4 linked regions of the Homo sapiens genome follow. Changing the gene in region 2 together with the main gene of any one other region gives a genetic interaction. Each region holds a gene or a part of one and is shown on either strand. Other genes may lie near its edges.

Region 1 (3,507 bases), on a different chromosome or scaffold from region 2:
GTTGTGTCCCCACCCAAATCTCATCTTGAGTTGTAGTTCCCATGCGAGGGACCTGGTGGGAGGTCATGCTGTTCTTGTGATAGTGAGTTCTTGCTGTTCTTGTGACAGTGAGTTCTCACGAGATCTGATGGTTTTATAAGGGGCTTTCCCCCTTTTGCTCAGCACTTCTCCATCCTGCCGCCCCATGAAGAAGGATGTGTTTGCCTCCTCTTCTGCCATGATTGTAAGTTTCCTTAGGCCTCCCCAGCTATGCTGAATTGTGAGTCAATCAAACCTCTTTCGTTTATAAATTACCCAGTCTCAGAAATGTCTTTATTAGCAGTGTAAGAATGGACTAATACAGACACAAAACTTTAAAACACGAAAGAACAAAACAAAGCTTAAAATGAGAGTAAGTATAATGAAGAAAAGAGAGTTAAATACTAAGAAAAATAGTATAAAGCAGGGAGGGTAGAGGAAAAGCCCTGGCCTCTCCAAATAGAATGGTAAATAGTAATGCAAACCAAACCCCACAACAAGACCTTTGGATTCCAAACAAATTGCCGAGAAGTTTCCATGACTGCGAAGGGGAGGAGGGGGAGGAGCTTCCCATTATTAAGTCTGTTTCCAAATAAAAGGTTTAACAATTATAAATTAGAACAAAGTTATAAAAATGAAAATCTTTACAAGTTTTTCTAATCAGTATTGAGAATCTGCCTCAATATTTTTGAAAGTTTTTATTATGTTCTAGACATAGTGTTAAGCCTGTGCTTATATTATTTCAACCTCACAACAATCCTAGAAGGTCATTTAACAGAAGAGATTTGGATTTTAATAGCTTGTTCAAGTAGTAACATTGACTTTGAATGATACTGTCTCAGACAGTCCCTTTTGAAATCAGTGCATTATTAATCATATTCATCTTTAAAATCATCCTAAGAATAGCACTACTTTCATCTGCCAACTTATGGATTTATGCTGTTGGTTATTTTAGGGAGTAGGTCTCCTTATGTTGCCAGTGGCTATTCACAGGCACACTCATAGCTCACTGCAACCCTGAACTCCTGGGCTCAAGTGATCCTCCCACATCAGCATTTGGAGTAGCTGGGACTAACCAGTGTGTGCCACTACATCCAGTTTTGCTGTTTTTGTTTGTTTGTTTTTTGTTTTTTTGAGAGGGAGTTTTGCTCTTGCTGCCCAGGCTGGAGTGCAATGGCGCAATGTTGGTTCACTGCAACCTCCGCCTCCCAGGTTCAAGCGATTCTCCTGCCTCAGCCCCCCAAGTAGCTGGGATTACAGGCACGTGCCACCACGCCCAAATAATTTTGTATTTTCAGTAGACACAGGGTTTCTCCGTGTTGGTCAGGGTGGTCTCGAACTCCCGACCTCAGATGATTCGCCTGCCTCGGCCTCCCAAAGTGCTGGGATTACAGGCGTGAGCCACCACGCCTGGCCTGCTTTGCTGTTTTAATACATGAAAAATGTGGCATTATAACTCAAACTGGTCTGCAATAAGAAAAGTATGGCAACTGAGATAAAGCCTTCAGAAATTTTTAGAGCAATATGATTATTACAATTATAGTAGTAATTTTTTATCTGTTGAATTTAACAATACATTTGGGCTTGTATTTTCTATGTCTTTTTTTCACTTCATTTTCCTACTATTTCATTTTTATAAGTGTATTGGTATGGATTGAAATAAAAATTAAAAACAAAAACTGATCCTTTACCAGGCAGTTTGAGGAATATTGCTGTAGAGCTCTGAGCCAAAAACAGCTTGCTCTCTGTTACCAGCTCTGTGACAAAGAGGAGACATACTCAGGTGAGTAACAACCCTCAGATAATCAATCTGAAATCCCACTTGAGCCATCTGTTTTTGTATCATAGCTCCATTTATCAACTGCAGCAGCACTGAGTTTATACTAGGTAATATAGGCTCTCAACCTACTTATGTAACATTGTTATTTAGAGCCAAAGAAAACTACTCATTAGCAATTCAATCGAAAAAACATAAGACAGTGTTAACTATAAACCAACGGGTCTCACTCCCTTACCAAACAGGGCTTCCTTTGTGTAAAGCATGCTTTGGCCTCCTTTATTTATTTATTTTTATTTATTTATTTTTATTTTTTTCTGAGACAAAGTTTTGCTCTTGTTCCCCAGGCTGGAGTGCAATGGTGGGACTCGGCTCACTGCAACCTCCGCCTCCTGGGTTCAAGCAATTCTCCTGTCTCAGCCTCCTGAGTAGCTGGGATTACAGGCACATGCCACCACGCCCAGCTAATTTTTGTATTTTTAGTAGAGATGGGGTTTCGCCATGTTGGCCAGGCTGGTCTCGAACTCCTGACCTCAGGTAATCCGCCCACCTCAGCCTCCCAAAGTGCTGGGATTACAGGCGTGAGCCACTTAGCACCTGGCTGGCCTCCTTTAAAAGTTAAAAGTGTTTCTCTTTCCTGTATACTGAAAAAATTTACATCCTGATTATCATAGTTACTTATAATTGCATTTGAGAATCGGATTTTTTTTCCTTTGTTTTATAAATTTTTAAGGCATGAAAGTACAGTTGCCAGGTCAAAGGGCAAGGAAGAAGGCCACAAAAGTATCAAGAAAGGTAGTTTTGGGGTGAGGAGAAACTGACAGAGAAATCAATGTCACATAAACCTCTTGGTGGGCACATCTGGCAGGTAGACCCCACCACTACTGCAATTTCAGACTACCTAATTTTAACTCGTTTTTAAATACTAATCTTGCCATAATTGATCATCTGACTTTTATTCCTGTTCTGAGATATTTTTAGAAAAAGTATTGAATGAGAAAGCAGCAGCAAGATTAAAAACATGAATAAAAAGCATATCTTTTCATGTAAATCAAGCTTGTCCAACTCATGGCTCGTGGGCCGCATGCAACCCAGGAGCACTTTGAATGAAGCCTTACACAAATTCATAAACTTTCTTAAAACATTATGAGTTTTTTTTTGCATTTTTTTTTTTTAGCTCATCACCTATCTTAGTGTTAGTGTATTTTATGTGTGGCTTGAGATAATTCTTCTTCTGATGTGGCCCAGGGAAGCCAAAAGATTGGACACCCCTGATGTAAACGAAAGTGAACTGTAAAACAGTAACACTAGCCTCTAAGAAAGCCAGACTTCCTTAAAAAGGCAAGTCATTTATCCAGTGTAGGAGTTTGGGGAATTATTTTCTAAGGAAAGAAATGGTGCTTTCCAGTCCCCCGTGAATGAAATTTATTTTTACAAATTTACCATCTCACTAGTTTCATTACAACATTGGTCCATAATAATGGCATAATTTACCTAGAAAATATGTTTAGTTCCTAGGAGATAGAAATCCTAGTTGAATTCTAGGATGTCTTTAAGTTATATATAACTTTCATTTTTTATTCTAATAGCTCAAAATGCATTGCATCTACTCTAATAATAAACAGATATTATGAATGCTGATTTTAGCATTTTAAGACCTACAGCTGGAAAAGACCATCTGACCGTCAATTTAAGAAAGCCACAAATGACAT
Region 2 (3,507 bases):
TTAAATATATACAGGCTTAAAAAATTATTTACACTACCCACTCTTATAAACATCCTCTCCTAGCCCTGTGCCAGAATCTCATTGCTATAGTAATTTAAGCATCTGCTCAATGGCATATGTGCAGCATTCATGAGCAAGAGAATGGAAAACATGCTTTTAACTTCTGTTTTGTATGGTTTCTCTGATCTTTTATTTTTGTGTGTATAGTTACCATAAATATATTTTCTATAGGAACATCTGCTCAGCAATTGGATGCAACATTTAGTACGAATGCTTCCCTTGAGATATTTGAATTAGACCTCTCTGATCCATCCTTGGATATGAAATCTTGTGCCACATTCTCCTCTTCTCACAGGTATGAGGTTCAGCTTTAAATTCATGTGATTATTTAATTATATATTGTTCTTGATTCCTAATTTGTCTATAATTATGCCATTATTAGAAACTACAAGGAATACCATCAAGAACATGAAATATTTTGTGAAAAAGCATGTGAGTGAATTTTTATGGAAGTAAAAGTAGTGTTTATGTGTTCTATTGACTTTTTTTTTTCTTTTTTTTTTTTGAGACAGAATCTTACTTCATAGCTCAGGCTGGAGTGCAGTGGCACGATCTCGGCTCACTGCAACCTCCACCTTCCAGGCTCAAGCAATTCTTGTGCCTCAGCCTCCCGAGTAGCTGGGATTACAGGTGCACACCACCTTGCCCAGCTAATTTTGTGTCTTTAGTAGCGACAGGGTTTTGCCATGTTGGCCAGGCTGGTTTTGAACTCTTGACCTCAAGCAATCCACCCACCTTAGCCTCCCAAAGTGCTGAGATTATAGGCATGAGGAATCACGCTTGGCCAGTATGTTCTGTTGGCTTTTTTATTGCTGTTACATGTAAGGTAGGAAGGAGAGGCTGTAGTTTCTAGCATTTTTTTCTGTTTTTTTGGTGTGTGTGTGGTTTTTTTTGTTTTTGTTTTTTTTTTGAGATGGAGTTTCACTCTTGTTGCCCAGGCTGGAGTGCAATGGCGCAATCTCGGCTCACCACAACCTCTGCCTCCTAGGTTCTAGCAATTCTCCTGCCTCAGCCTCCCGAGTAGCTGGGATTACAGGCATGTGCCACCATGCCTGGCTAATTTTGTATAGAGTTCTTTTTTCTATCTCCTTTATTGTGCCTGTTTACAAAAAGGTAGATGTGACTAGAAAAGGAGTAGTCATCGTAAGTATTAATAGTGATTATCTCTGAATGGTAGCTTATTTTTATTTTCTTCTGTTACGATATTTAGAAATATATCTCACAGTTTTGTTGACACGATTTCTAATACACTAGGTAACTAGGTATTTGGATCATACTTTCAAGTACTTATGCCCTATTGTAATGCAGAGAAAGGAGGTCTTCATTTCAGTAATAAAATAAGCTTTATTGCCTCAATATATTAGCAGGGTTTAAAGAGATTGCTCTTTAGCTGACAGAATATAGCTCAAATCATGCAGTTTCATGGGACCGCTCATATTCTTCAGAGCTGTCACAGTGGGATGGGAACCCCAGATACCTTTTGTCTAGTAGTTTTTCTGCTTACTACCATCTGTATCATCGTATACCTTTCTGCCTTCATATTTCATCTCCATTCTGGACCATATATTTTATTCTCTAATAGTAGGGGTACTTGTTATAATCTTGATGTCATTTTTCTACCATTAGAATACATTCTTTTTCTTAGAAAATTTCACATGACTCCTTTAACACCTTTACTATTTAACAGACCACTTGTTAGTGACCCCCCCTTTTTTTTTTTTTCAGACAAAGGTCAAAGCATGAGACCCTTCTATAGTCAAATAAAGAGTGTTTTTACCTTTCGAGGGAAGTGATTGATTAGCTCTATTTTACAATGAACCAGAGGCAATTTAAGAAGATTAAGTAACTTAGGGTCTCACAGTTTCTAAATGGTAAAATCATTCTTAAGCTCATATTTTTTGACACACAACTCAAGTATATTTTGTTACACTACCTTACAAGAGTTTTTACTCTTTAAGGATTACAAAATCACATATGCAAATATGAGTATAAATAAAAAATGAAATACTATTACACCAAAGTCATACATAGTTACCAGGAGTGGTGGGAAAGTAATATATTTGGATTGTTTATGAAAACATTAAAAATTAAGTGTATAATTTCAATTTTTTGTCTACATTTATTTGACTTTAAGAATGAATGATTTTATTCATTTTCTCCTGTAGGTACCACAAGTTGATTTGGGGGCCTTATAAAATGGATTCCAAAGGAGATGTCTCTGGAGTTCTGATTGCAGGTGGTGAAAATGGAAATATTATTCTCTATGATCCTTCTAAAATTATAGCTGGAGACAAGGAAGTTGTGATTGCCCAGAATGACAAGCATACTGGCCCAGTGAGAGCCTTGGATGTGAACATTTTCCAGGTTAAGACTTTAACATTTCATAATTCTTAGACTATGTGCTGCTCATTTGAAATCAGTATATGAATCTACTATGCCTCAGTTTTGGAATTGAAAGTTAAAAAACTGTGGCTATACAGGTTGACGAGTGTTTGTTTAAAGAATGGTGGGTTCAGAGTTGAGATCAGGGTTAAAAATACTACCTCCATGAAAAGGATCCGGCTGATAGGTTTTTGTTTTTGTTTTTGTTTTTGTTTTTTTGAGACGGAGTCTCGCTCTGTCACCAGGCTGGAGTGCAGTGGCATGATCTTGGCTCACTGCAACCTCTGCCTCCTGGGTTCAAGTGATTCTCCTGCCTCAGCCTCCCGAGTAGCTGGGATTACAGGCGCCTGCCACCACGCCCAGCTAATTTTTGTACTTTTAGTAGAGATGGGGTTTCACCATGTTGGCCAGAATGGTCTCGATCTCTTGACCTTGTGATCCGCCCGCCTCGGCCTCCCAAAGTGCTGGGATTACAGACGTGAGCCACTGTGCCCAGCTGGCTAATAGGTTTAAGTCTGAAGATGTCACGCCATTTGATTAGACATTTTATAAACATTAAGATCCCTATAGGTTGGAAACCTTGCCTTTTAAAAGTTCATGCTAGGTCAGCATTAGGCTGGTGCTGTGATGTCCAGGTTAATTCACTGTTTTATTAATTGAGAAATTTTATGTTTATGACAGAGATTAATACTCTATGAAATAATTAGAAATTAAATGTAATGGCTGGGCATGTGGCTCACACCTGTGTAATCCCAGCACTTTGAGAGGCCGAGGCAGACAGATCATGAGGTCAGGAGTTCGAGACCAGCCTGGCCAACGTGGTGAAACCCCGTCTCTACTAAAAATACAAAAATTAGCCGGGCATGGTGGCAGGCACCTGTAATCCCAGCTATTCGGGAGTCTGAGGCAGGAGAATCGCTTGAACCCGGGAGGCGGAGATCGCAGTGAGTTGAGATCGTGCCATTGCACTCCAGCCTGGGCAACGAGCAAAACTCAAAAAAAGAAAAAAGAAATGTAATGCAGATTTAACAAATAGTCAATTAAGATTCTTTGTACTGTTGCCTT
Region 3 (3,507 bases), on a different chromosome or scaffold from region 2:
AAATTCCATCTCAAAAAAAAAAAAAAAAAAAAAAAATTTAGCCAGGCATGGTGCCATGTGCCTGTAATCCCAGCTACTTGGGAAGCTGAGGCAGAAGAGTTGCTTGAACCCGAGAGGCGGAGGTTGCAGTGAGCTGAGATTGTGCCACTGCACTCCAGCTTGGGCAACAAGAGCGAAACTCCATCTCAAAAACAAAAACAAAAACAAAAGAAAGAAAGAAACGTTTTAGGTGTAATTAAAAAATACCATGAAAGAAAAAAAAAAAGAAAGAAATTTTTAAAAAGAAAAAAAAATGCCATAGACTGGGTGGCTTAGAAAACAGTTTTTTGTTTTCTCTCTGAAAAGACCCTAAGAAAGAAAAAAAAAATCGCAATGTATTTTCTCATAGCTCTGTAGGTCAAGAAGCCCGAGATCAAGGTGTCAGTAGATTAGGTTTCTGGTGAGGCCTGTGTTACAGACTGCAGACAGCCACTTCCTTGCTGTTATCCTCAGGTGGCCTTTCCTCGTTTCAAGGGGGAGGTGTCCTCTCACTCTTCCTCATCTAATCCAATAATAAAGGGCCCACCCTCCTGACCTCATCTAGCCCTGGTACTTCTCAAAGGCCCATCTCCTATTCTTAGCACACTGGGAGTCAGGGCTTCGGTGTGTAGGGAGGGACACAAATGTTCAGTCCATAACATCCATTCGTGGATAAATTATATGTCTGAGATTTGCTTCAAAATAATATAAGACTGGGGAGAATGAGGGGTATAGAGAAGCAAGATTGGGCAGTTCACCTAATTGCTGTAGTTGGGTGAAAGGTTTGTAGGGTCTCTTTATAATATTCTGTCTACTTTGATACATATTGCACTTTTATAATAAAATATGTGAAATGTTACAGTTCTTCCATTTCCCTTATCCTTCTCTTTTTCTTTTTTCCATAGCACTTGTCACCTAACATTATTTGTCTATTGTCTATCTCTTCTTGACAGAATGTAAACTCTCAAAGGGTTGGGATCTTTGCTCTCTGACATAACCCAAGCCCCTTCAGCAGTAACTGGCATGTAATAGGTCCTCCGTAAATGTTTGCTCACTGATGAAAACAGCCCAACTCCTCCATACTCCACACTAGACAACCCAGGATCCCCAAAGGACAGAACAGACTACAGGAGAAGCAAAGACAGTGCTGGGTATCAAGTTCTCAGAATAGGAATTTAATTTTGGAATAAGACTATACTAAAAATTTCTAGTGTATAGCTTACTTACTCAATTCTTAGAATGCTAAAGTGACATTTTTATTTAATTATATGGCAAAGGCTTTCTCAGAAGCATAATTTTAGGGACAAACTCCCTGCTTCCATGTGAACAGATGGTGTCTGCCTTCCCTAAGTACTTGGTAAAGCAGGAGTCATCAGACATGCTAATATTGGTCCGAGCTGTGCTACTAAACAGTTACACTGATCATGGCCAGTCACAGCAAAACCAGCCCTCAGCTCCTCAACTTCAAAATGACTTCTGACGGCCCTTCTCATTAACCTGGATGTTTAGAGCTTGCTGACTGGTCTAGGTGAACTGACAGTGCCCACAAATGGCAAGCTACAGATTGAGTTAAAGTTACTATCCAAACAGGTGGTTGTCAGTTCCAAGGCTCTGCTAAAAATTTCAACCCTGAAATTGTTTTTTTTTGTTTTTTGTTTTTTGAGACAGGGTCTCACTCTGTCGCCCAGACTGGAGTGAAGTGGCACAAACATGGCTCACCGCAGCCTCAAATTCCTGGGCTCAAGCGATCCTCTGGCCTGTCTCCCAAGTAGCTAGGACTAGAAGCACGCACCACCATGCCCAGCTAACTCTGAAATGTATACAATCGCTTCAAACTGCTAACAGATCTCAGTTAAAAATAAGAAAAATGGGCCAGGCGCGGTGGCTCATGCCTGTAATCCAGCACTTTGAGAGGCCGAGGCGGGCAGATCACAAGGTCAGGAGATCGAGACCATCCTGGCTAACACGGTGAACTCCATCCTTACTAAAAATACAAAAAAATTAGCCAGGTGTGGTGGTGGGCGCCTGTAGTCCCAGCTACTCGGGAGGCTGAGGCAGGAGAATAGCGTGAACCCAGGAGGCGGAGTCGGAGCTTGCAGTAAGCCGAGATCACGCCACTGCACTCCAGCCTGGGCAATAGAGCGAGACTCTGTCTCAAAAAAAAAAAAAGAAAAGAAAAGAAAAATGTCCAAACATACAATGGAATGGTCCCTGGTCACTGTTAAAAAAAAAAAATTGCAAACAGGGGCCTAAAATAATATTCAGAAATTAAACACCATGTAACAAATGTCCAAAAAGCCACATAAGGGAGAGAGCACAGAAGAGGCTGGACTTTTCCTAAGAAGGGATCACCCCACCTTGTAACCACATCTAGAACCCAGAAGCCCAAATGTCAAGATAACATTCCCTCGGTCAGGAGTACACGAAGGACAAACCTCCAAAGACAGACGCAGCTGTCTAAAACCAAAGACGCTTGATGAATGCCGGCCACTGCGCGCTTGGTAGCTAACACAGACAGTGGTGCGGCAGGTGGCATGGTGCCCCACAACATCCTAACCCTCAAAACCTGTGAATGTCACCTTATTTGGGAAAGGGGTCTTTGTAGACTTAATTAAGTTCAGGAGCTCAAGATGTGATTATCCCAGATTATCCAGGCAGGCCCTATATATAGCTGGATTCTAGATATATTTCAAAGATAATGTCAGTTGTGAGAGAAAAAAGAAGTCATAAATGACTCCAAGGTTATCAATTTTTAATTTAAAAACAAATATTCTCTAAGGCCAAAATACTGTGACTATATTTGACATTAAGAGCAGATAGAGGAAAGATTTGAGGAAGAAAGAAGGTGAGACACAGGACAGGAAGCCACAGGAAGCTCTGAGGCAACCCACCACAGAGGCAGGCACTGAGGTGGGAATGTTTTGACTGTTTAAGACCCTGCAGCTGTCTGGGCACAGTGGCTTATGCCTGTAATCCCAGCACTTTGGGAGGCCAAAGAGGGCGGATTGCTTGAATCCAGGAGTTCAAAACGTGCCTGGGCAACATGGCGAAACCCCATCTCTACTGAAAATACAAAAAATTAACTGGGCATGGTGGCACACAAGCAGCTACTCGGGAGATTGAGGTGGGAGAATCACCTGACCCCAGGAGGTCAAGGCTGCAGTGAGCCGAGATCATGCCACTGCACTCCAGTCTGGGCGACACAGTGAGACCATGTCTTAAAAAAAAAAGACCCTGTAATCTTCTGCCGTTGCTGGTCTCTAACTCCAGATCTAAAGCCACCAGGTCTAGAGTGGAGCACGGGGGTGGGAGGGTCAGTACTTGGAGATCAGTGTGCAATACCTTTGGAGACCACACACTTACACACTAAGGCATGCGACTCCAGGGAAGACACTCTGTCAACTGGCAACAAACTTTCCTACGACAAAAAAATCCTTAAGTCAGTTATTTGTATTTCCATTAAAAGATAACCAACTCAGCCAGAGTGAG
Region 4 (3,507 bases), on a different chromosome or scaffold from region 2:
AGTTTGGGTGTGAAGCATATTCAGAATTCTTTTGGACAAGCATGACAGTCTTAACTTTGCCGTCCCCTCCAGGTTCCTTCTTCAGTGCAGTCACCGGCACAGCAGCAGGTACCTGCCAGACCTGGGGCTCCCTCTGTTCAAGTGCCATCTCCTTTTCTACTTCAAAACCAATATGAGCCTGTTCAGCCCCACTGGTTTTACTGCAAGGAGGTAGAATACAAACAACTGTGGATGCCTTTTAGTGTGTTCGACTCTTTGAATCTTGAAGAAATCTATAATTCAGGTAAACATTGGTCATACATCATTCATATCTGATTTTAGGAAGAGAAGGAATGAGATCATTTATTCATGATCTATTTTCTGTGAATGTCAAATACCTTAATCCTTATAGACCCCAGACTCTGTACCTTAAGGTGACGATATTAGTATAAGTCCTGAGTTACCTGGGTAAGGTATTTGAAGAAATGTTTTAGTAATTTACTTCGTAGTTTAAAGGTATTTTGAATCAGAGAAGTTGAGCAGTTCATATAATCCAGGTTTCAATTTTTCTGTTTCCCTTGTTCATTTGTAGTTATGGGGGCATTTATAAAGGGCATTCTGTGGAACTCTCTATCCTGGAGATGCTCTGTGAAAAAAGGGTTCCCTGGTCAGATGAGTTTTGGAAATGCTGCTCTCTGTATCTAGGTCTTGAGAGAGATGGTGTGCAGGAGTACATTAATGCTTTGAGAAGTCCTGCAGTGTAGAAATGTGTTTCTTTGTTTATCCTGATATATTATTATATCACTGTATTATTGTATGTAGATATTATTGTTCTGATAAAAAAAATCCATCAGTTCTTTGAATTATGTTTTTAAAGTTTGCCCTAGCTGTTTCTTTTCTACTTAAGAGTCATAATTTTGAGCAGCACAGATTAATCTTAAACTTCTATTTTGAAATAAAAATGAGCCTAGTTTTTTGTCTTTAAAGATTGAGTAGTCACCGTATTCATTATTTATTATTTCATTTTTATTTTCTTGAGACAGAGTCTCACTCTGCTGCCCAGGCTGGAGAGCAGTAGCGCAATCTGGACTCACTGCAACCTCTGCTTCTTGGGTTCAAACTACTATGCCTCAGCCTCCCAAGTAGCTGGGATTATAGGCGTGTGCCACCACGCCTGGCTAATTGTTGTATTTTTAGTAGACAGGGAGGTTTCACCATTGGCCAGGCTGGTCTCAAACTCCTGACCGCAAGTGATCCACCTCTCTCGGCCTCCCAGGGTGCTGGGATTACAGGCATGAGCCACTGCGCCCAGCAGATTATTTATTATTTTACAATATGCCTTGCAGCAGTTAGGAAAAGTGTTAATTTTGTTCTCTAGTTCAGCCAGATCCGGAGAGCGTGGTTCTTGGCACGGATGGAGGGCGCTACGATGTTTACCTCTATGACCGAATAAGGAAGGCTGCCTACTGGGAAGAGGAGCCAGCCGAAGTGAGACGCTGTACTTGGTTTTACAAGGGGGACACAGATAGTCGATTTATTCCCTATACTGAGGAGTTCAGTGAAAAACTAGAGGTACGGGTGCTTTATTTCTTTATGAGTTTCTTTAAAAAATGTAGGTCCTATATACATTGGTGAGTAACATCATTCACAGTGGAGCGGACTTTACTTACAAGACAGCTTGTTTTGATGCTGTTCACAGAGAAGATTACTTTTTAAGTGGTGTCATCACTCATGAGGTGCTAATCGTGGCATCTGTGTCTAAAGATAGAATATGATTTGCAGAGACACATCACAGATCTAATAAGGTGCTTGTGTCAAGCCTTCAATAGAACCTAGGCCGCTGGGATTTGTTGTTGATAGAAGATGCCAAGCATATGGACATTTTCAAATTAGTATTCAGTAAAAGGCTTGAAATTAACCTCTGATTTGTGAAAATAAATAAATAGAATTGGAAGAAGTGTCTTGAGTCTTATTAGCCATCTTAAATCTATAATTTCTTCAAGAAATTATATGTTGTTTTATATAATTGTGTTAAATGCTTGTGTTAATTCTACTTAAGAGTTGAATGTTAGATATTTGAAATACGTTCAGTGAATTCAGTTGCATAGATAGGAAATGAGATACAGAACATTTTAGTTAACTTCTGGCTGGGTGTGGTGGCTCGTGCCTATAATCCCAGCACTATGGGAGGCCTAGGTGAGCAGATCACTTGAGGCCAGGAGTTTTGAGACCAGCCTGACCAACATGGCGAAACCATGTCTCTACTAAAAATACAAAAACTAGCCAGGCGTGGTGGCACACGCTAGTAGTCCGAGCTACTCGGGAGGCTGAAGAGGAAGGATCACCTGTGCCAGGGAAGTTGAGGCTGCAGGGAGCTGAGATCATGCCACTGCACTCCAGCCTGGGCAATGGGAATGAGACCCTTCCTCAGAAAAAAAAAAAGTATATATTTGTATATGTGCATATATGTGTGTGTGTATATATATAAAGAAAAAAGTGTAAAGGAATGCTGATATCTATAGCTTAATTTTAGATATAAATAAACAAATAAAGATATATTGTAATTTTTGGTACCTTTTTGGTAGGCCCCTACGAAGCTATCATGTCCCCAGATTAAATGTTTAGTTTTACTATTTTGAAGCTGAAGTATATATTTTCAAGTCCAAGCAGTGTCTGAAAGTCTACACTTTCTCTTAACTATATTTGATTTTATATGGGTGACATAGACTTTGAAGCGGGATAGATATCCACATACTGACCACTGCAGCAACACATGGCTACCTAGGGAGACCTTAGCTTTTGTTCGGCTTCTTCCAGGAAACTCAAACCAGATCAGGGAAGAGGCAGAGGAGGTTAGGAAGTGAGAAAGCCGATAATAGAAAGGGAACAAAATGATACGTATTGCTCAGCATCCTGTTGGTGATCCTCTTCTGTCAGAGCACTAAGACAAAACAACGGAAGGGTTGGAGACAGAGAACACCTTTAATTTGATGAAGACATGATTATTGTCTACGTGGAAAATCAGGAGAACCTCTAGAAATATTAGCACCAATACAAGAGTTTTTTTGCAAGTCCGTGTATATAAAATTAACATACGTAAATTAGTAACATTCCTGTGCCATAGAAATAACCAATTAAAAATAGAAAAAGAAGATACTATGTATTTATAACAGAGAGACTATATATTTATAAAACTACAGGCAATGTAGGAAAAAAGCCCAAGAAAAGTACCGGTAAACTTTATGGAACACTGAAGAACGTAAAAGGTGACCTCAAGAAATGGAGCTAGGCTGGGCGTGGTGGCTCCTGCCTGTAATCCCAGCACTCTGGGAGGCCAAGGTGGGTGGGTTGCTTCAGCTCAGGAGTTCCAGACCAGCCTGGACAACATGGAAAAACCCCGTCTCTACAAAAAATACACACAAAAAAATTAGCTGGGCATGGTGGCCCATGCCTGTGGTCTTAGCTACTCAGGAGGCAGAGGCAGTAGGATTGCTTGAGCCTGGGATCTTGAGGCTGCAGTGAACTGTG

The links.
Region 1: changes in SEC31A (region 2) and SLC39A9 together harm fitness more than expected from each alone (negative genetic interaction), as found in Homo sapiens cells (one large-scale study listed by BioGRID).
Region 3: changes in SEC31A (region 2) and TRAPPC10 together harm fitness less than expected from each alone (positive genetic interaction), as found in Homo sapiens cells (one large-scale study listed by BioGRID).
Region 4: changes in SEC31A (region 2) and SEC23IP together harm fitness less than expected from each alone (positive genetic interaction), as found in Homo sapiens cells (one large-scale study listed by BioGRID).

What each region holds. Positions count from the first base shown.
Region 1 is NC_000014.9:69,401,689-69,405,195, reverse strand, and holds part of SLC39A9 (zinc transporter ZIP9), read right to left. Parts: intron 1-3,507. UniProt on the Homo sapiens protein: Transports zinc ions across cell and organelle membranes into the cytoplasm and regulates intracellular zinc homeostasis. Participates in the zinc ions efflux out of the secretory compartments.
Region 2 is NC_000004.12:82,877,647-82,881,153, reverse strand, and holds part of SEC31A (protein transport protein Sec31A), read left to right. Parts: intron 1-231; coding exon 232-355; intron 356-2,225; coding exon 2,226-2,424; intron 2,425-3,507. UniProt on the Homo sapiens protein: Component of the coat protein complex II (COPII) which promotes the formation of transport vesicles from the endoplasmic reticulum (ER).
Region 3 is NC_000021.9:44,018,806-44,022,312, reverse strand, and holds part of TRAPPC10 (trafficking protein particle complex subunit 10), read right to left. Parts: intron 1-3,507. UniProt on the Homo sapiens protein: Specific subunit of the TRAPP (transport protein particle) II complex, a highly conserved vesicle tethering complex that functions in late Golgi trafficking as a membrane tether.
Region 4 is NC_000010.11:119,902,727-119,906,233, forward strand, and holds part of SEC23IP (SEC23-interacting protein), read left to right. Parts: intron 1-72; coding exon 73-283; intron 284-1,357; coding exon 1,358-1,551; intron 1,552-3,507. UniProt on the Homo sapiens protein: Plays a role in the organization of endoplasmic reticulum exit sites. Specifically binds to phosphatidylinositol 3-phosphate (PI(3)P), phosphatidylinositol 4-phosphate (PI(4)P) and phosphatidylinositol 5-phosphate (PI(5)P).